Linked DNA regions of Homo sapiens: region 2 is linked to region 1. The links come from fine-mapping of genetic effects on plasma protein levels. Region 1 holds a variant in brackets. A gene starts in the other region. All regions are shown on their forward strands. Region 1 holds the start of LINC02420 (long intergenic non-protein coding RNA 2420). Region 2 holds the start of GFRA3 (GDNF family receptor alpha 3).

Evidence for each region. PIP is the chance, under the fine-mapping model, that this variant and not a neighbour inherited with it causes the effect. Protein levels are from antibody-based Olink assays in UK Biobank. Linkage for the fine-mapping came from a reference panel and not from the study's own genotypes, which makes the PIPs less certain.
Region 2: GFRA3 starts here. The variant in region 1 is fine-mapped to the plasma level of the GFRA3 protein (UK Biobank, PIP above 0.99).

What each region holds. Positions count from the first base shown.
Region 1 is chr12:67,440,471-67,450,723 of GRCh38, forward strand. It overlaps LINC02420 (long intergenic non-protein coding RNA 2420), which reads right to left and starts at 2,089. Exons shown (of 2, transcript NR_146500.1): 1 at 1,824-2,089; 2 at 528-1,002. All of the region lies in intron 3 of LOC105369812 (a long non-coding RNA gene), which reads left to right. RefSeq lists a silencer at 7,906-8,090. The variant C/A (reference allele first, on the strand shown) is at 6,217.
Region 2 is chr5:138,270,029-138,280,062 of GRCh38, forward strand. It overlaps GFRA3 (GDNF family receptor alpha 3), which reads right to left and starts at 4,593. Exons shown (of 8, transcript NM_001496.4): 1 at 4,306-4,593. The coding sequence starts at 4,396. RefSeq lists silencers at 4,316-4,505, 4,596-4,685.

The sequences.
Region 1 (10,253 bases):
GATACTTCTGGGGATGAGGTGAAAGTTTCAAGATGAATAGTATTTATTTCTGTACAACAACCACAGCTCTTCTCTTATTCTTTGTGACTCTTATTCAGCTCACATCACAGCAAATGAAGTAACAAGATCACACATTTGTTGTATTCTATGGACCCTCTCTTTCACAGAACCATTACATTACCAGGTTACCCACTGGCTACCCACTGGCTTGAGACTGACAATTCATTAGGTTTTTTTTGTTTGTTTGTTTTTGAGAGGGAGTCTTGCTCTGTTGCCCAGGCCGGAGTGCAGTGGAATGATCTCAGCTCACTGCAACCTCCACCTCTTGGGCTCAAGTGATTCTCCTGCCTCAGCCTCTTGAGTAGCTGGTACTACAGGTATGCACCACCATGCCCAGCTAATTTTTGTATTTTTAATAGAGACAAGGTTTCACCATGTTGGCCATGCTGGTCTTGAACTCCTGACCTCAGGTGATCCACCCGCCTTGGCCTCCCAAAGTGCTGGGATTACAGACATGAGCCACTATGCCCAACTGAACTGATATTTTTATTATCTTTTTTTTTTTCCAGTCGAGAAGCCTGAGCCTCAGAGGGGTAAGTGACTCCTCTCATTTATGCTGCTGGCGTCTGGTGAGGCTTAGTCTCGGCATTCAGGTGTGCAGATGGTTATGTGTGTGGTGGGGAGTAGAAGTCTCTTCTTAATGTTCTGCTGACTGCTCAGTATTTTATGATGAGCCCAAGTCATTTGTCTTGCATCAGTTTTTCCTCCCTTGCTCTAATGCTTCTCTTTAGATAGAGCAAATGTATTCTTTTGTTCACCAGCTGGTCCTTTTACCTTTGAGGAGGTAAAAGAAGTAGGTTTCCAGCAGGGGAAGAGGGAGTATGAATGAAGGTCATGGGAGCATAGAGCAGGAAGAAATGGTCCCAGAGGAGTTGCCTAGTGGCCACCTAGGATGAGAGGCAGATTCGTTGAATCTGTCTTCGATGTAAGGTGATGCTGTGCCTACGGGGATGAAAGAAATGGCAGTGAGGGTGAGCAGCTTCCCAGAATACACCTGGGCCCCGTGCTCATGGTCACTTGTTGGTTGGAGCCACATCTGGGTCTGAGATTCAGGCTGGACACAAGATTGCTGTGATGGATGTACTTTCATTTCATCACATCCTATTTGTATCACAGCAATATCAAGAAAATGAACACACAAAGCTAGATCACCATGGAGAGAAGGCAGTTTAGATGTATTTGTTTTTTCCCCCTGTATTTTTAATGTTTTGCTTGATTTCTCATCATTTGAAGTTGCTCCTCTGATGTTACAGAGATAACATTTGCCTGATGATCTCAGCTAGAAAGTGGTCACAGGAGTAGCATTCCACAGGACACTGAGCATTCGCTCTTGGGAGCACATCGTTTGTATAAGGGCAAAGGAAAAGAAAGGGCAGCCAAGGCTGGGGCGGAAACGCAGCGCCCTCACCTTCGAGAAGGAAGCATGGGGAAGGCGCCCTCTTGTGGAACTCGGCTCACTGTCTAATCTGCCTGGTAACAGGCGCTCTTTATACCAACGGATATATTTTTCCCCATGGATTTGTGTTTGAAGGTATTCTTAGAAAATTTTGAGTACAACTCTCGGCTGCTTTTCATATCCACCAAGAACTGACAATCTGAAGTCAATGTGAAATTCAAAAGGTGGCATTTTTTTAAGAGAGCCAGATTAACTGTGAATTATCTCCCAAATTGGCATGTTGGGTAATTATTTTCATATTTTGGTGCAGAGCCTTTCAAAATATGGGTTTTGCAATTACGTTAAAAAAAAAACCTACTTCTCTCACCTGTGTAGGATTTAAGCAAAGCCCAGGCAGTTTGAGGTTATTTTTAGTCCTGATTAATTATTCAGCCAAGATAATTCCAAGTTCAGCAGCTTATTTGGAAGAGACATGACAGCTGGGCTCTCAAGTCAGCCTCAGGTCAAAGCCGACATCTTCATAGCAAAACCGTGCTCTCCCCACATTTTGGGGAGAGGGCAGCGGGTTGCATTTTCTGTGGCACTGGTGTCAGCTTTGCCAGCCTGGAGCCGGTGAGTGGAGGGAGAAACTGCTGATTCGGGGGCCTTCAGACATGGCCGATTTCACAGCAGCGAAAATAGGTCACTAATGACACGTGGCAATGAGCCAATAAACTGTGGCCAGGAGCTCCGAACGGTCTGCTGGTGGCAAGATACATTTCACTAGAACTCCAGGAAGAAAGCAATCTGCTTTCATTTGTTTAAAACAACCATAGGGTTGCAGAACTCAGAGGCCAAGATTGTTATCTCTCTCCCCCTTACCTTTATATTCCTAAACGTTCAAGTTTATTGTTTCAGTTTATCCCTTTTCCCATGCACTGAAATAACTGTGGCGCTCTTGCTTCTTTTTTGAATAGTCAAGCTGATATGATTCTTTTTTCCCCTCAAGTGCCAGGGGGGAGAATGAAGATGATATGGTTTGGCTTTGTGTCCCCACCTGAATCTCATCTTGAATTGTAATCCCCACGTGTGGAGGGAGGGTCCTGATGGGAGGTGATTGGGGGCTATTGGGAGGATCATGAGGACGGTTTCCCCCATGCTGTTCTCGTGATAGTGAGGGAGGGCTCGCGAGATCTGATGGTTTACAAGCGGCAGTTTCCCCTGCGGCTCTTTTTCCTGCTGCCATGCAAGAGGTACCTTGCTTCTCCTTTGCATTCTGCCACAATTGTAAGTTTCCAGAGGCCTCCCAGCCATGTGGAACTGTGGGTCAATTAAACCTTTTTTCTTCATAAGTTACTCAGTCCCGGGTGTGTCTTCATAGCAATGTGAGAACAGACTAATACAGGAGACAATGATGATATTATCCTTTCTGAATCCCTCTGTGTTGATGCTGATGTGGCTCTAGTCGGTTTAGTCCATACCATACTGATCTTCATAAAACCGTCTCTGTGATTTGGGAGCAGTGTCATGTGTTGCTATTATGTGAGAAAATAGTATTTTTACTTCATTTTGGGTAGTCACTCTGGATTGATGTTTCATGTTAATCTCCTAAAAGAAGAAGGGGGGATTGTAGAGAAGAAGGCTGGGAATGGCTAATCACCTTCCATATAGGCCTGGTGTGATTCAGAACAGAGCTTAGACCAGAGATTCCCAAACCAAAGTGAGCCTCAGCATTCCTGGGAGGTCCTGTTAAAACCTAGGTGGCTGGGCCTCACTCTCTTATTCTGATTCAGTAGGTTTGTACGAAGAGCCCAAGAATGTGCATTTCTAACAAGTTTCCAGGTGATGCTTGTATTGCTGATTCAGGGACCTGCATAAACCTGAAGTGCTGGCTTAGGTAGGTCAGCAGTAGCCTCAGCACTGCCCCACATAAGCAATTTCCCCATCCTAGAACTTCCTCCACACTGCAGACAGTTTAAGAGTAGAGACCATTTCTCATTCATCTTTGAATTTCCAGACTCCAGCACAGTGCTTGACACAGATGTGTTAAATAGTTGTTGAATGAATTAATGACTGAACTCTATCAGCTGATCTTCTTAGAATTTCTTACTTGAAGTGGGTAATCAGAGATGTTTTACTGAAACTCTGGAATTACCTTAAATAGGATATTGGTTGCATTGAATGTAAATGACGAAATCACTGAAATTAATATTTTAAAAGACAATGGGCTGGGTGCGGTGGCTCACACCTGTGATCCCAGCACTTTGGGAGGTGGGGTGGGGTGGGGGTGGATCACGAGGTCAGGAGTTCGAGGCCAACCAATATGGTAAAACCCCATCTCTACTAAAAAATACAAAAATTAGCCAGGCATGGTGGCGCATGCCTATAGTCCCAGCTACTCAGGAGGCTGAGGCAGGAGGATCACTTGAACCCGGGAGGCAGAGGTTGCAGTGAGCTGAGATTGTGCCACTAAACTCCAGCCTGGGTGACAGAGCGAGACTCCATCTCAAAAAACAAGACAAAAAACAATGGAGTAAGGAGAAATAAGGCAACATGCTCTCCTAAGGGTTGCTCAGGTTGAACAAAAGGAGCTAGGTTTTAGGAAGAAGCTGGGCAGAGGAAAGGTGGGCCTACCAAAGCGAACAAGGTGTTTTACCACCATTTGTAATGAGAGACAGAAACCTTCTGCAAGGAGTGTATTAAGAAGATGACCTGGCACCTTTTCCCTGGAAGGTCCCATTCACTGAACCTCACAGGGCAGGGTAAGACATAGTTCTTGTATCAAGGAAGAGTTTTTGGCATGGTTTGTGACTTAGGGACTATGTAATATGTTGGTAACCAGTATGTAAACCCTGGAGATCAGCTCCTAGGACTCCTCTGATCTGTGTGTTCATTCTTTTATTTGGATGGGAACGAAGGGAAGAATGGAGTTTGAGTCTGGTTTGGTTGGAACCTTCCATCCCTCATGACCTTACGGCTGCCTTAGCGTGTGTCCTCTCCACGTGTTGCTGGGCATTTTCTGGCATGCCTCTTTTGTTTTTTGTGGCTTTCTTTTTCTCATGCTATCCTTCTGCTTGGAATGTCTCTCTCTACTGTCCAACCAGCCTAATCCTGGATAATTCAGACTTAACCATTTATAACTTCCCCTAGAAGCTACCTCTCCCAGGAAGTATCTTTAGGTGTCTCTTCTCTGTGTTCTTATAATACCCTATGAATACCTCAATCACTCATTCACTTATTCATTCAACAATTATCTATTGAGTTCCTAATAGGTGCTAGGCATAGTGCTAGTCATTGGGGATATAAAGATGGACATGACATAGCTCTTGTCCTTAAGTAGCTCATTGCCTAGTGAGAGGATATAAATAATTAAACAAGTAATTGCAATACGAAGTGCAAAGTCCTCAGATAGGAGTAAGCACTGTTGCTATGGAAATACCTAGAAAGGACGCCTAACTCTAACTTGAGGTGTCAAGGAGCATTTTCTAGATTAGCAATCCCCAACTTTTTTGGCACCAGGGGCCAGTTTTGTGGAAGACAATTTTTCCACTGATGGGCAAGGGGAGGGATGGTTTCAGGATGAAACTGTTTCACCTCAGATCATCAGGCATTAGATTCTCATAAGGAACGTGCAACCTAGACCCCTCGCATGCACAGTTCACAATAGGGTTCACATTCTTGTGAGAATCTAATGCCACTGCTAATCTGACAGGAGGCAGAGCTCAGGTGGTAATGCTCACTGGCCTGCTGCTCACCTGCTGTGCAGCCTGGTTTTTTTTCTTCTCTTGTTTTTTTTTTTTTTTTTTTTTTTGAGATGGAGTTTTGCTGTTGTCACCCAGGCTGGAGTGCAGTGGCACAATCTCTGCAACTGCTGCCTCCTGGGTTCAAGTGATTCTCCTGCCTCAGCCTCCCAGGTAGCTAGGATTACAGGTGCCTGCCATCACGCTCAGCTAATTTTTGTATTTTTAGTAGAGATGGGGTTTCACCATGTTTGCCAGGCTGGTCTCAAACTCCTGACCTCAGGTGATCCACCCATCTCAGCCTCCCAAAGTGCTGGGATTATAGGCGTGAGCCACTGCACCCAGCCATGCAGCCTGGTTTCTAATAGGACACAGACTGGTGCTGGTCCATGGCCTGGGGGTTGGGGACGCTTATTTTAGATAAAGAAACATCTTACTCAAGATCTAGCAGGTTGAATAGAATTTAGCCAGACAAAGAGATGGGAGAAGAGCATACCAATGAGAGGAGAAGCTTTTGCAAAGCTCATTATTTGTTTATATGATTAGCTGAAGACTGTAGACTCTGGGGGCTGAGACTGTGTTTTATTCCTTAGTCTAGTCCTAACTCATAGCATCGTACCTGGCATACAGTAGATGTCCAAGGAAAAATTTCTTGAATGTGTGAATGAATGAATTAGCCTCTGCTGCAATGGCTGTTGAGAGTACTAACCAGTAACCTCAGAAGGTGGTGATTCTTAGAAAGTGAACCTTTGTTGGCTCAATGGCTCTCTATTCTAATTCTTGTATGCCCTTCCTATGTGCTTATCAGTTGGTTAGCAGACATTAAAATTGTGTGGGTTCTATGTGCAGGTTCATTTCATGTTCTGAGTACGATTGCTGATATGATTTCCATGTAGCAGCAAACTGCTCCAACCCAATGCTTTGAAAACAAATGTGCAAATTCCGAAAAGAGGATTAATGCAAACAAGGTTAGAACCGACTGAGCATTTTAACACTGCATGAAATATAAACAAATCAAACTGTGTTTTCAGAAACAGACTT[C/A]TTTTTTTATGATTGGAAAAATACTGCTTTTGTTGTTGTTGTTGTTGCCTCCATTGTCAGTTGCCTCTCGAAGTGTGTTCTGCTGTTAATGGAACAGCGAGGCAGGTCTGCAGGCCCACGCGTCTACCCACTCATTGTCAGTGAGCACTGGCTTTCTGAATCACCTGGGAAAATGGGAAATGATTAACTCAAAGCAAAAAAGGTGACTTACATTTTCTGAATGAATGATAGTGATTGAAGTGCTAACTCCTAAGAGATTTGCAGAGGAGTTCATGCAAGGGGTAGAGAGCGTCCCTGTGTTCTTAGGAGTTGCTTTAATAAAAGGAGCCCTGGCTCAGAGTGGGGGAGGCAAAGCAGGCAAGAAGCAGTGAGTGGGAGAATTGAATAACTTGATTGGAGAATCCTTGTGCTACTCCTCTATGCCCTGATTGTGTGGGCTGACATCTGGCTGCAAATAGATGCTCAACAAAGGATCATGGCTAACCACAGCTCCTAACAGTGCTTTGAAACTGAGTGCACATTAGAATCACACTGCAGTTTTAAAAAATACCAACCCTAGGGCTTCATCCCAAGAGTTCCTGATTTAATTGGTGTGGGATAGGACCCAGGCATCCATATTTTTTTAAAAGCTCCCCAGGTGCTTCTATTTGAAAGCCAGGATTAAGACTAATTGTTTGTAGTGGTTTAGGAGAGCCTCTTGCCAGCCAAGGAGTGGCTCCTTCACTATGAGCTATCATCCCTTGTCATGATCTCTCTTCCAGGACAAGAGCAGAGAAGGGAGTACAAGAAAAGAGGAGTAATTAAGGGTTTAGTGTGATCCTTTTAAAACCCCAGTCCAGAGAGGCTTTAAGAAGCACAGGTTAGGTCCACACTGATTGATATTGTTATCCTTGAAATTGAAAAGAGAATATGGAGAATAATGAAGAGTTAGCAATAATGATGTGGCAATGGGTTATTGGCAAGGTACTTCCAGAAGGTCTTGAAATATGTTTGGCAAGAAACTCACTGATCAGATGAAGAGACCTGTAAAGTGAAATTTGAAGGGAAATAAAGATACTGAGGGAAGTGGGGAGAGGAACTGTGGAACTAGAGATCAAGGAATAAACTGCTATATGATTCATTTGAAAAACAAGGGAGGCCTCTCTGAGATCCCCAGGAGAGACAAGGAAAAGGCACAGGGATAATGCTCACAGGTATGGATGGTGACATATGTTTCATAATTTCAGTTTAGAGAAATTAATATAATTTTTTTCAATTTATTATTTAAAGTACCACCAACACTATTAGGGTGAGACTTACAAGTGGAACCCTCCACCAGAATTCTGCCCTCCAGTTACAGATTTCCAGAAGGTGGAAAGCATTGCAACATTCACATACTATGTTCCATCCCAAGCCTTATGAGGTCTTCAAAACCATACCACAGTATTCTTGGGGGAAAGTGTCTTCATAGAGAATATTTCAGCACTCATTTTAATAATACATCCTTAAGCTGTTCTAATTTGTGCCCATCTCAATGCCAAATTCAAATTTACTTGAAAAAAACAAAAACAAAAACCACTAGTCTAGTTCAACCTCAGAGGTCCTAGGTTTCTTTCCTTGACCACCTCCTATGCTGAGCTTCCATCTTGTCCCTCCTGGCTGGAGCAGTTAGGTTTACCGGAGCCACATAAGTGAGAGCTACCATTGGCCTTACCTTGGAAAGCCCAAGCTTTCTGGCATAAAGGAACTCAGATCCCTTAGGACCCTGGGAATCTCACATGCCTCTGACTCCTTCAAGAGGTGCAGCATCTGTATAACCGAAACGACCACCCTCTACTTCCCTGTCATGTCTTGCTTGGCTCTGGAGAGCACAGAGGGGAGGCTTCTGTGGATCACCCCTCCACCTTGTATACACACCTCCTAGAATTGGTGTCTCACTGCCTAATTATGTGCCAATGGCTCTGATCTGTAAACAGGATATTGATATTAGATCTCACATAGTTTAAGCTTCTGCCAGTAGAATTTAGCTACCTTCCCGATATCTTCCTGCTATGTCAGAAAGCACAGCTCCTAAGCCCTCAGTACGGTAGTCCATGGTTTAAACTGAGGGAAAGGACTTGATCAGCTGATACTAGTGCAAGAACCTGGCTGAAAGAGATCATGAAGGCCCTGAGCATCTGCTTACAGGCCTTCCCTTTTCAGTTTTCAAAATGTTCAAAAGGGTGGAGGGCCCTGGCTTCTCTCTTATCCATGGAATGCCTTTTCTGGTGCCTTTTCTTACTGTCTCTGGCCTGACATGCTTGGGTCAGGTCAGAGAAGGGCTTTGCCTTAATGGCATGTTTATCTTCAAATCTCTCTTAGTATCCACTAAGCCTATAGGTCTTTGATTCTCTAAGGTTCATGGGAAACAGCTAAGGAGTGCTAGGGAAGATCTACTCAGGATCTGCTCTTACCCCATTATGATGCTAGCCATCTAGCAGAACTTGCACAGTATTTAAAAATGAACAATGTCAACTCTGCTTCTTCCAGGCAGTTCTGAACTGGGGATGAACGTTCACATGCCTCAAAGGTCTTATATAATTTGGTTTCTAAAGAAATTAGCACTCCAGGTATTTGATATCATGATCATCCTTTTTACCAATTACTCGATAGTGTCTGGAGCCCCCAAGATCCCTTGTGACCTTTGTCTAAAACTGAGAAAACCCACTGAGTGAGCAGCAAAACTGTCTTCTCCTTTTACCTCTTAGCATCTGAATCTGATACTTATCACTCTTTAAAACCTAAACCAAAATCCATTGTCTCTGGTAAGCAGTGTTGGGCATTCTGAATCTAGAATTTGGGTTCGAGTTTCCTTTGGTGTCTATTTAAAAAAAACAATTGTTCATGCAAGTCTAAATGTTATCTGAATTTTTATTCTTCACAGTGCATGTGCTGTGGGGCTCAGAGATACTAAGTGTGATGTTTTAAACGGTTACTCTTAGAAAGAGTGACTCATCTCAACTTTCCCTAAGTGGTCATGTATTTTGCATATCTATTCTAGAATGCTCTAGGCCCATGGGCAATGCACATTGCACTCACAGAGGGCATACACTTGGCATCTGCCTTAGAATACTCTCCTTAGCCACATCTTTATCTGCTTGACTACAAAACTGAAACTTTCCGTGCTGTTGGGGATCTGTTTTAGACACTCTCGAGTTAAAATGAACGAGCCAGTGCTTGAATATTTCCTCTTCCTGTTTGTGTAGCCTTCTGCACATAGGTAGCGATGGTAACTGCCCAAGTGTGTTGCCATTACATCTGGACTTGCAGATGCAGAGCAGGCCCTATGGATCCAGCTCCCTCTCACAGATACCCTGGGTTTGATGTGCTCTTCTCTCATCGGACTCCCATACCCACCCCCAGTTTTTCCCTGACTCTCATTCACATCTGTAGGAGTGGGCGGGAGGCTTTAGCACTTAGGCCACAGAATCTGAAGCCAGGATGAGGGCACAGGTGCTGGCTCTCAAGTGTCCTTAAAGACTCCCTAACCAGCACCACTGAGCTCTAAGTATCTCCTTTCCTTGTGGCTTCTTCCATCCTGGCCTTTCTAGATCCTGTGGGTTGAGGTCTGAAGTTTTTGTCCAGCATGATCTACTTCCTGGAAGGCTGAAGACCACACAGATCCTGGGCTGATTCAGCTTCCCAACCTTCTCCAAGTGGCTTCTACCACTGGGATACCAAAAAGGGGTTGTCCACTGAGTTTTGGTTGTCAACCAAATTCAACCACCAATTTTGCCTATTCCCTTCCCTTCCATAGCCATAGGATGTTACCAGATGGTGATATAGTTTGCATGCTTGTCCCTGCCAAAATCTCATGTTGAATTGTATCCCCAGTGCTGGAGGTGGGGCCTGGCGGGGGGTGTTTGGGTCATGGGGGTGGATCCTTCATGGCATGGTGCTATCTTTACCATAGTGAGTGAGTTCTCACGAGATCTGATTGTTTAGAAATATGTGGTACTTCCCCTCCCCGCACCCTCTCTCTCTCTTGCTCTTGCTTTTGCCACATGATGTGCCTGGTC
Region 2 (10,034 bases), not on the chromosome of region 1:
CAGAAATTGTGATAGAATAGAATACTACTCAGCCATAAAAAGGAATGAATTGGCCAGGCATGGTGGCTCACGCCGGTAATCCCAGCACTTTGAGAGGCTGAGACAGTCGGATCACAAGGTCAGGAGATCAAGACCATCCTGGCTAAAACAGTGAAACCCCGTCTCCACTAAAAATACAAAAAAAAAAAAAAAAAAAAAGTTAGCCAGGTGTGCTGGCAGGCACCTGTACAGCTACTCGGAGGCTGAGGCAGGAGAATGGCGCGAACCCGGGAGGCGGAGCTTGCAGTGAGCCGAGATCACGCCACTGCACTCCAGCCCGGGCGACAGAGCCAGACTCCGTCTCAAAAAAAAAAAAAAAAGGAATGAATTAACAGCATTTGCAGCAACCTAGATGAGATTGGAGACTATTATTCTAAGTGAAGTAACTCAGGAATGGAAAACCAAACATCGTATATTCTCACTGATATGTGGGAGCTAAGCTATGAGGATACAAAGGCATAAGAATGATACAATGGACTTGGGGACTTGGGGGGAAGCGTGGGGGAGGGGAAGGGATAAAAGACTACAAATAGGGTGCAGTATATACTTCTTGGGTGATGGGTACACCAAAATCTCATAAATCAGCACTAAAGAACTTACTTATGTAACCAAACACCACCTGTATGTACCCCAATAACCTATGGAAAAGAAAAAGTATATCAGAATTTCTCTAGGAAATATGTATTTCCAAAAAGCATATTTGATAATTTTACATGTACAAGATGAAAAAAAAAGCTTTTGAGATTTCAAAAAGTATTTAAGGAAGGTATGAGATTTTATATATTTACCAAAAGGGGAACATGGATTTAAAAAGATTGAGGAATTTCTACAAGTTTACGATGTTACTTCCGGTAGGTACTGAATAAGTGGTAAGTACACAAAGAAAAGTGGCAGATTCAAGTTCTATTGTTGTAACTGGACTAAAAATAATTTTTTTTTTTTGAGGTGGAGTTTTGCTCTTGTTACCCAGGCTGGAGTGCAGTGGCGCGATCTCGGCTCACTGCAACCTCTGCCTCCCGGGTTCAAGCGATTCTCCTGCCTCAGCCTCCCAACTAGCTGGGATTACAGGTATGCCCCACCATGCCTGGCTAATTTTGTATTTTTAGTAGAGATGCGATTTCTCGATGTTGGTCAGGCTGATCTTGAACTCCCGACCTCAGGTGATCTGCCCGCCTCGGCCTCAACAAAGTGCTGGGATTACAGGCATGAGCCACTGTGCCCGGCCATAAATATTTAACTGTACTAACTATTGAGTTGTAAACATTTTCAAAAGAAAACAATTTCTTAGTTGACACTTTACCAAGTTTGAGCAGTGATGGATTTAGGGGCATTCATCTCAACAAAGAACTTGGGGGCCACGTTAAATTTCATCTCAACAAGGTGGAACCTGTGTTTCCTGGATTGTGAAACACAGGACTTGATCCAGGGCAAAGGTCATAATTTGATCCAGTGTGCAAATGTGTCTTTTTTAGTCAGCATAGTTCCGTTCCTTTCTTTTTCTTTCTCCTTTCTCCTTTTCTTTTCTTTCTTTTAATCTCTGTCACCCAGACTGGAGTGCAGTGGTACAATCGCCACTCACTGCAGCCTACAGTCTCGACCTCCCAGGCTCAGGTGAATTCTCCCACCTCAGCCTCCCAAGTAGCTGGGACTGCATGCATGCACTACCACGCCCAGCTAATTTTGTATTTTTTGTAGAGATGGGTTTTCACCATGTTGCCCGGGCTGGTCTCGAACTCTTGAGCTCAAGCAATCCACCCACCTTGGCCTCCCAAAATGCTGGGATTATAGGCGTGAGCCACCATTCCCGGCAGTATTTTCTTTTCTGTTTTTTTTTTTTTTTTTTTTTTGTGTGTGTGTGTGTGTGTGTGTGTGTGTGTGGTTTGGTTGTTTTATTTGTTTGTTTGGTTGGTTTTTTTTGCACGTTCACAGTATTTTCTTTTTCTTTTTTTTTTTTTTGAGACGGAGTCTCGCTCTGTCACCCAGGCTGGAGTGCAGTGGCGCGATCTCAGCTCACTGCAAGCTCCACCTCCCAGGTTCACGCCATTCTCCTGCCTCAGCCTCCCGGGTAGTTGGGACTACAGGCGCCCACCAGCATGCCTGGCTAATTTTTTCTATTTTTTAGTAGCGACGGGGATTCACTGTGTTAGCCAGGATGGTCTCAATCTCCTGACCTCGTGATCTACCCGTCTCAGCCTCCCAAAGTGCTGGGATTACAGGTGTGAGCCACTGCACCCAGCCAGTATTTTCTTAAAGTTGTAATTAGTGGCCAACATTTAAAAATCAGATTTTAGGCCGGGTGCGGTGGCGCACACCTTTAATTGCAGCACTTTGGGAGGCCAAGGTGGGCAGACTGTTTGAGCCCAGGATTCAAGATCAGCCTGGGCATCCGAGATGGCAAAAACCCGTCTCTACAAAAAATACAAAAATTAACCAGGTGTGGTGGCACACTACTACAGTCCCAGCTACTGGGGAGGCTGAGGCAGAAGGATTACTTGAGTATGGGAGGTTGAGGCTGCAGTGAACTGGAATCACACCACTGAACTCCAGCCTGGGTGACAGATTGATACCCTGTCTCAAAAAAAAAATCAGATTTCAAATAAAACTATTAATTTCCAATTTGTCTTGAAAAATGGAAACACTCGGGCCCACATGTAACGGGTGGAGTAATGACTGCCCCCTTTTGACAAGTCATGCCTTTTCCAGCTTGTTATAGTCCATACCACTTTCTATTACTTGCCCCACCTCCTCATTTATACAGCCACTGCCACGTCTATTTCATATTGATTTGTTAGCAACCTGGTTTTGTAACTTTGTTTTCTGCTTCTTGGCTCATCAGAGAATGAGTAGCTACAGAATGGGTCAGATCAGGCTATGCCTCAGGGCACAAGATCCTCATTTGTTTCTCATCAGTGAGGCCCACAACCCAGGTATCCATTTTATAGTTGGATGAACAAAGAAAAGTAATGTGCACCAGGGGATGTAGCAAGTCAAGACCGAGTCAAGGCTAGAACCCAGGACTCCAGCCTCCTATCCACTTCAGAATGATTTTCAGTACATGACACCACTTCCCCATGAATCGGAGGTCTCCTATATGCTTGGCTTTAGCAGGCCCTGAGCAATGATATTTTCCACCCCCAAAGCCCTCTGTTGGTCTGTGCTCTTGAAGAGCACTTGGCTCTACATGGTACCTCCTAGATGACTGTTTTATGGATTTTCAATGAGGCTACTTAACCAGATGTCATTGCTGTCAAGTATTACTGTGGAAAATAGATCTGTCACCAACACTGCTTCATTAAACCATTTAATGAGAAAGGTGTTTAATGTTTTCCCCTGATCCTGACATGCAGCCATAACCTTTAGGATTAGTGAAATTTCCTGGGCAGTCAAATCAGACTGGTGATGTCTTGCTGCCCTGACTTACTGATGTTGGCAGGTGGACAGACCAGGGTTTTTCCTCCTTCCTTCCATATCTGTCTCAAGGCAGCATTTCTACAGCACTGCGTTGTGGACTGAGGTCTCAGGGCAGTGTGGTGGTCTCTCTGTCTCAGGAGTCCCTCCATTCAGTCTCTGGGCAGGAGCCGCATAATAAGATTCCACACACCCATACCACTCACGAAGGCCATGGGCCTTCCAGGGATCTCGGATCCCAGGCTGTTCTTCCTTGGGGGAGTGGCCTGGTTCTAAAACCAGGCCTTGAACTACATCTACAAAACATCTATTGTGGATTATTTATTATCCAAGGGGCAAGCCACTGTGCTAGACGGCTTGCAAGGCCTGCTATTGTAGAAGGTTATGAAACAAGTCAGTTTTAACGAACTTCTTTTTCTTCACCTGTACCTAGTTTCTTCCTCAGTCCTTAAAGCAGATGGAAGAGTTAAAGCCCACGTGGAGCAAATGACACTCTGTTTCTGATCTGATTCTCCCCGCCTCTTAGAGACGCTGTCTTGGTAGTGACCTGGCTGTGGGTTGTTCTGTGACTGTGTAGACCTACCTCAAAAGAGGGAAGAGGGGGGAAAAAGGGGCGAGGAGGAGATGCTTGGGTGGCCAGGCCATTGCTGGCACTCAGTCTATCTCAGTTCGTACACTGTGTTAGGTGTGACCCCAGCCCCTTGCAGGCACCCTGGGCTTCCTGCTCCAGTTCCCCTTGTTCGGCTCGGATGCACCGGGAGGCTGCTGCGCCCTCTCCGGACAGGTGCCCCGGGCCTCGCCTACACCTCACCTCCCCCTCCCACTGTACCCCCGGCCGGTGCGCGCTCTGACACTCACCGGCTGCGAGAGGCAGCGGCGACGGCGGCAGCAGCAGCAGCAACATCAGGACTACGGGCGGCAGCGGTCGCGGGTTCAGGGGGCGCACCATGGCGAGCTGTAGGCGCCGGGCTCCGCGCTCCCCTCGCTCCTCCCCTGGAGCTCTGAGAGCGGGGCTCCCTCGACCGGCACCTCCCGCCCCCGCCTCCCGCCCTCCAGCGCGACGCACACACTCTCCCACCAGGGTCCTGGGCGCCGCCCTCCAACTCCGAAGCGCGCGTCCACACCACGCGCCTCCAGCGCTGGTCCGAGGGACCGCGGGGGTGGGGGCGGGGGAGGGCCGGCGCCCCGGGAGCCGCCGGGCTTGGTGCGGAAGAGGTTGCTCTTTCCGAGGCGGCCCACCTGCTGTCTGACAAGTTCGACTAGCAAGACATTGTGGAAGCTGCCGCTGGAAACTCGCCATCTAGGAGAACCAAATATTTCTCCAAGAAAAGCACCCTTTCTCACTTTCTGGATCCCACTCACCCACACATCAAAGAACAGACACCACCACAAAAGAGATTTTGTAACAAAACTTGAACAAGCCAACACAAGGGCACTTGCATTTCTAGTATTTTTCTTAGAATTTGCACATCTATGATCTCGTTTTTTCCTCTCCTAAGTGTCTTCTAGGGTAAGATTGGGTGGTTATTAAGCTCAAGATGCTGCAAAGATGGGTCGCAGACAGGTGGAATGGCTTTGCTGGGGGAGCAGACCTGGGGCATTAGATTCCAAAATTCAGCCCCGATGGTGTCGTGAGGGAAGATGGAAGATTAAACTCTCCACTAAATAGCAGAGATTTCCTTGGACCAAAGCTCACTGAGGAAGGTGCCTGGAGAGACCATTTAGGAGCCCATCCTTTTCACATGATGAGACTTTCGGAGAGCAAGCTACTCTATCAGGATTAAACAACTAGGTAGAAACACATCTGTGCCCAGAACACAGGACGTCTACCCATAAGGATAAGGGTATTTATTGGGCCTGGGCCTGATTCCCACAAGATCCCAGGATAAAGCCAGAAGCAGAATGGCTTGGAAGAATGAGAACTAAGCAGCGCATAGAAAGAGAGAAGGAGAAGAGGGTGATGAAAGGAAGTGGAGGGTTTCATCCCCTAACCCTCTAACTTGACCCCCTCCTTACTTCCACAGCCAGCCTGGCAGAGGGCCAGCAGGGAGTACTGAGAATCGCAATATAAACCTCTGAGATTTATTGGCTGCTGCTTCTGAATATGGCCATCCTGCTGTGGCCTCTGGGGGGCATTTGCCGATGTAATCAGCCCAGAAAGAGAGTCATTCCAGCTGGGGGTGTAAATCACCCTTGGCAAAGCTAGGAGAGAGACATGTGGCCCTAGATAAGGAAGGAGACTGATGTGGCCTCTGTGCCCTTCCCTCCCTTCTCCTGCCCAGGGGGTGCTGGTTCCTGAGCTGTAATGCACTTTAAATGGAGTTTGTCCTTCGTTTTAATCTATATCTGCCCTGCCAGTTTTACAGAAGAGCTGTAAAAGTGAACATCTGGCTACTCAGCTTTTGTACAAGGCCTGTTTTCCCCCAGCTCCACCCTATCTCCATGTGCCTTTCCCAAGCCCTCCTCTCCAGAAAGGTGAGGGAACATGAAGCTGGGGGGCTACCATTAAAGGCCCCATGATGTCAGGCCCTCTACCCCATTGCCAGAGAGAAATATGCTCCAGGCACCTCATTTTCTCTCACACCTGCTATTACAGGCAGACAATCGTTTTTTGGGTTTTTTTTTTTGAAACTGACAATACTTAAGAAAGGAATTTATAAAGCAAAATGTAACAATTTCAGGCTCTTTGGGATGATAGGAAAGGGCTGAGACCCATGAACCAACAAAGATGTGAGGTGGTCAAGGGGTGTCTCCTCTGCCCTCCCCCTCCTCCAGCCCAAGCCAAATCATGTTATGGGCAGGAAGAGGGTTTGGGAAAGGAAGTTTGCTCAGGGTGCCTACTCTGATAGATACTCAGTGTCTATTCCAGGGCTGTCCCCACAGAATAGACCAAGAATGCAGTATCAAGCTGACGGGCTGGGAGCAATGACCAATCCCACCTGTAACAGGCCAGCCTTTTCATGAGAGAAAATAAAGTGTCTGGTGCATATTTCTGTCTGGGTACAGGGGTGGAGAGCCTCATATCATTGGGCCTTTAATGAGGATTGGAGAAGCTCTGCAAATAAATATGACTCCAAGACTAATATTGACAGCCCTCCAGCACACCCTCTCCACCAACCATGTCCTCTGTGACTGCCAACACCTGCTAGATAAGCAGCATTGCCCCTTGTGGACAATGACAAATGAGCCAGTCCTTTCTACAGAGATGATGTTACTCATCCATCATTCAATTCAATAATGTGTTTTGAGAATGATTATGAGCCCAGCTTTATGCTAGGTGCAAAATGATTAAGACACAAATCCTGCTCGGGGAGGGTGTTACAATCCACTGATTGCAACTCAAATGCCCAAAGACCCTGTATCTTATTCCACTTTCACTTGTAATCTCAATTTTCTCCTCTTATGGTCAGATTACATGGATTCTACCTTCTCTCAAGTCCTCTCTCTCTCCATTGAGCTTTAATTCCTGCTGCTATCCTAATCCAGGATGTTAGCAGTATAATAAATAGTTAAGACCACAAGCTTTACAGACTGCCTAGATTCAAATGCCGACACTAGCTGGATGACCTTGGGCAAGTCACTTAATTTTTCTGTGCTTCCATTTCTTCACCTGTAAAATTAAGGATAATAGTATCTATTTCACATTGTGAGGATTAAATGAGTATAGTATTTAAATGAAGGTGTAGGCTGGGCGCGGTGGCTCACGCCTGTAATCCCAGCACTTTGGGAGGCCAAGGTGGGCGGATCACGAGGTCAGGAGTTCAAGACCAGCCTGGCCAATATGATGAAACCCCATCTCTACTAAAATTACAAAGATTAGCCGGGCATGGTGGCACATGCCTGTATTCCCAGCTACTCGGGAGGCTCAGTGGGGCAGAAGAATTGCTTGAACCCAGGAGGCGGAGGTTGCAGTGAGCCAAGATCATGCTATTGCACTCCAGCCTGGGCAGTAGAGCGAGACTCCGACTCAAAAAAAAAAAAAGAAAAGAAAAAAAAAGGTGTAGCATTATACCTGGCATATAGCAAGCATCGAATAAATATCATCCCAGGTAGCATGCAGGAGTTAATTATTCTGTGTGTGAACTTGGCCAGACCCCACCACCCGACCTGCTGATTTGGAGCTGGAAGTGGCACTTTTTGCTCCTTTTGCTGAATATACTACTAGACCAGAGTGCTTGTAGGGATGGAAACAAAAAGAGCCATTTTTTATTTTTCTACCTTGTCAATTTCTTGAGGGCAGGGACTGTGTCATATTTTAACAACTGTGATACTCAGAATTGGCAACTCCAGATGCATATGTTTAAAGGAATTGGTGTTTCCTTAACCTATGCCTGAACAGAACAGGGAGAGAATCCCCCATGCCTCCTACTTTATACTCCTGATAAAGAAAGGGAAATATTCCTCCTTAATATAGTTTGGATATTTGTCCCCACCCAAATCTCATGATGAAATGTAATCCCTAATGTTGGAGGTGGGGCCTGGTGGAGGTGTCTGGATCATGGGGGTGGATCCTTCATGAATGGCTTGGGCCATTCTCTTGGGGATAAGTGAGCTGTCACTGAGTTCACAAGAGATCCAGTCATTTAAAAGTGTGTGGCACCTCCTCCCATAACTCCCTCCCTCTCTTGCTCCTGCTCTGGATATGTGACATGTCTGCTTCTCCTTCACCTTCTGACATGATTGTAAGCTTCCAGAGGCCTACCCAGGAGCTGAGCAGATGCCAACACCATGCTTCCCATAAAGCCTGCAGAACCATGAGCTAATTAAGCTTCTTTTCCTTATAAATTGTTCAGTCTCCCAGGCAAGCATGGTGGTCAGCCAGGCATGGTGGTGTCGGCCTGTAGTCCCAGCTACTTGGGAGGCTAAGGCAGAGGTTGCAGTGAGCCAAGATCATGCCACCACACTATAGCCTGGGTGACACAGTGAGACCCTGTCTCCAAAAAAAAAAAAAAGCCGGGCGCGGTGGCTCACGCCTGTAATCCCAGCACTTTGGGAGGCCGAGATGGGCGGATCATGAGGTCAGGAGATTGAGACCATCCTGGCTAACACGGTGAAACCCCATCTCTACTAAAAATGAAAAAAAAAAATTAGCCTGACGTGGTGGCGGGCACCTGTAGTCCCAGCTACTCGGGAGGCTGAGGCAGGAGAATGGCATGAACCCAGGAGGCAGAGCTTGCAGTGAGCTGAGATCATGCCACTGCACTCCAGCAGGGGTGACAGAGCAAGACTCTGTCTCAAAAAAAAAAAAAATTACCCAGTCTCAGGTATTTTTTTTCTTTTTCTTTCTTCCTTTTTTTTTTTTTTTTTTTGAGACAGGGTCTCACTCTACTGCCCAGGCTGGAGCACAGTGGTGCAATCATGGCTCACCACAGCCTCAACTTCACATGCTCTAGTGATCCTCCCACTTCAGCCTCTCAAGTAGGTGGGACTACAGGTGCACACCACCACACCTGGCTAATTTTTAAAAATTATTCGTAGAAGGCCAGACGCAGTGGCTCATGCCTGTAATCCCAGCACTTTGAGAAGCCAAGGCAGGTGGATCACCTGAGGTCAGGAGTTTGGGACTAGCTTGACCAACATGGTGAAACCCTGTCTCTATTAAAAATACAAAAAAATTAGCCAGGCATGGTGGCAGGCGCCTGTAATCCCAGCTACTTGGGAGGCTGAGACAGGAGAATCACTTGAACCCGGGAGGCGGAGGTTGCAGTAAGCCAAGATTGTGCCATTGCACTCCAGCCTGGGCAACAAGAGCAAAACTCCATTTTTTTTTTTTGAGACGGAGTTTCGCTCTTGTTGCCCAGGCTGGAGTGCAACGGCGCGATCTCGGCTCACTGCAACCTCCGCCTCCCAGCTCTCAGGTTCAAGTGATTCTCCTGTCTCAGCCTCCCAGGTAGCTGGGATTACAGGCACATGCCACCATGCCCGGCTAATTTTTGTATTTTTAGTAGAGATGGGGTTTCATCATATTGGTCAGGCTGGTCTCGAACTCCTGACCTCAGGTGAGCCGCCCGCCTTGGCCTCCCAAAGTGCTGGGATTACAGGCGTGAGCCACCGCACCCAGCGAAACTCCATCTTAAAAAAAAAAAATTCTTCGTAAAGACAGGGTTTCACCATGTTGCCCAGATGGTCTCAAACTCCTAGGCTCAAGTGATCCTCCAGCCTCAGTTTCCCAGTGTTAGGATTACAGGGTATTTCTTTATAGCAAAGGAAGAATGGCTTAATACATTCCCTTCTCTATGGCAGAGGTCACCCAGGTCCTGGGCTGAGATTGACAAGAAGCAATTGCAAAAAAAAAATTTATGTATATTTTTTGAGACAGAGTCTCCCTCTGTCACTTAGGTTGGAGTGCAGTGGTGCAATCTCAGCTCACTGCAACCTCCACCTCCCGGGTTCAAGCAATCCTCCCACCTCAGCCTCCTGAGTAGCTGGGACTACAGACATGCACCACTGCACCTGGCTAATTCTTAAATTTTCTGTAGAGACAGAGGTCTGACTATATTGCCCAGGCTGGTCTCAAACTCCTGGATTCAAGCAATCCTCCCACCTCAGCCTCCCAAAGTACTGGGATTATAGGCTTAAGCCACCGC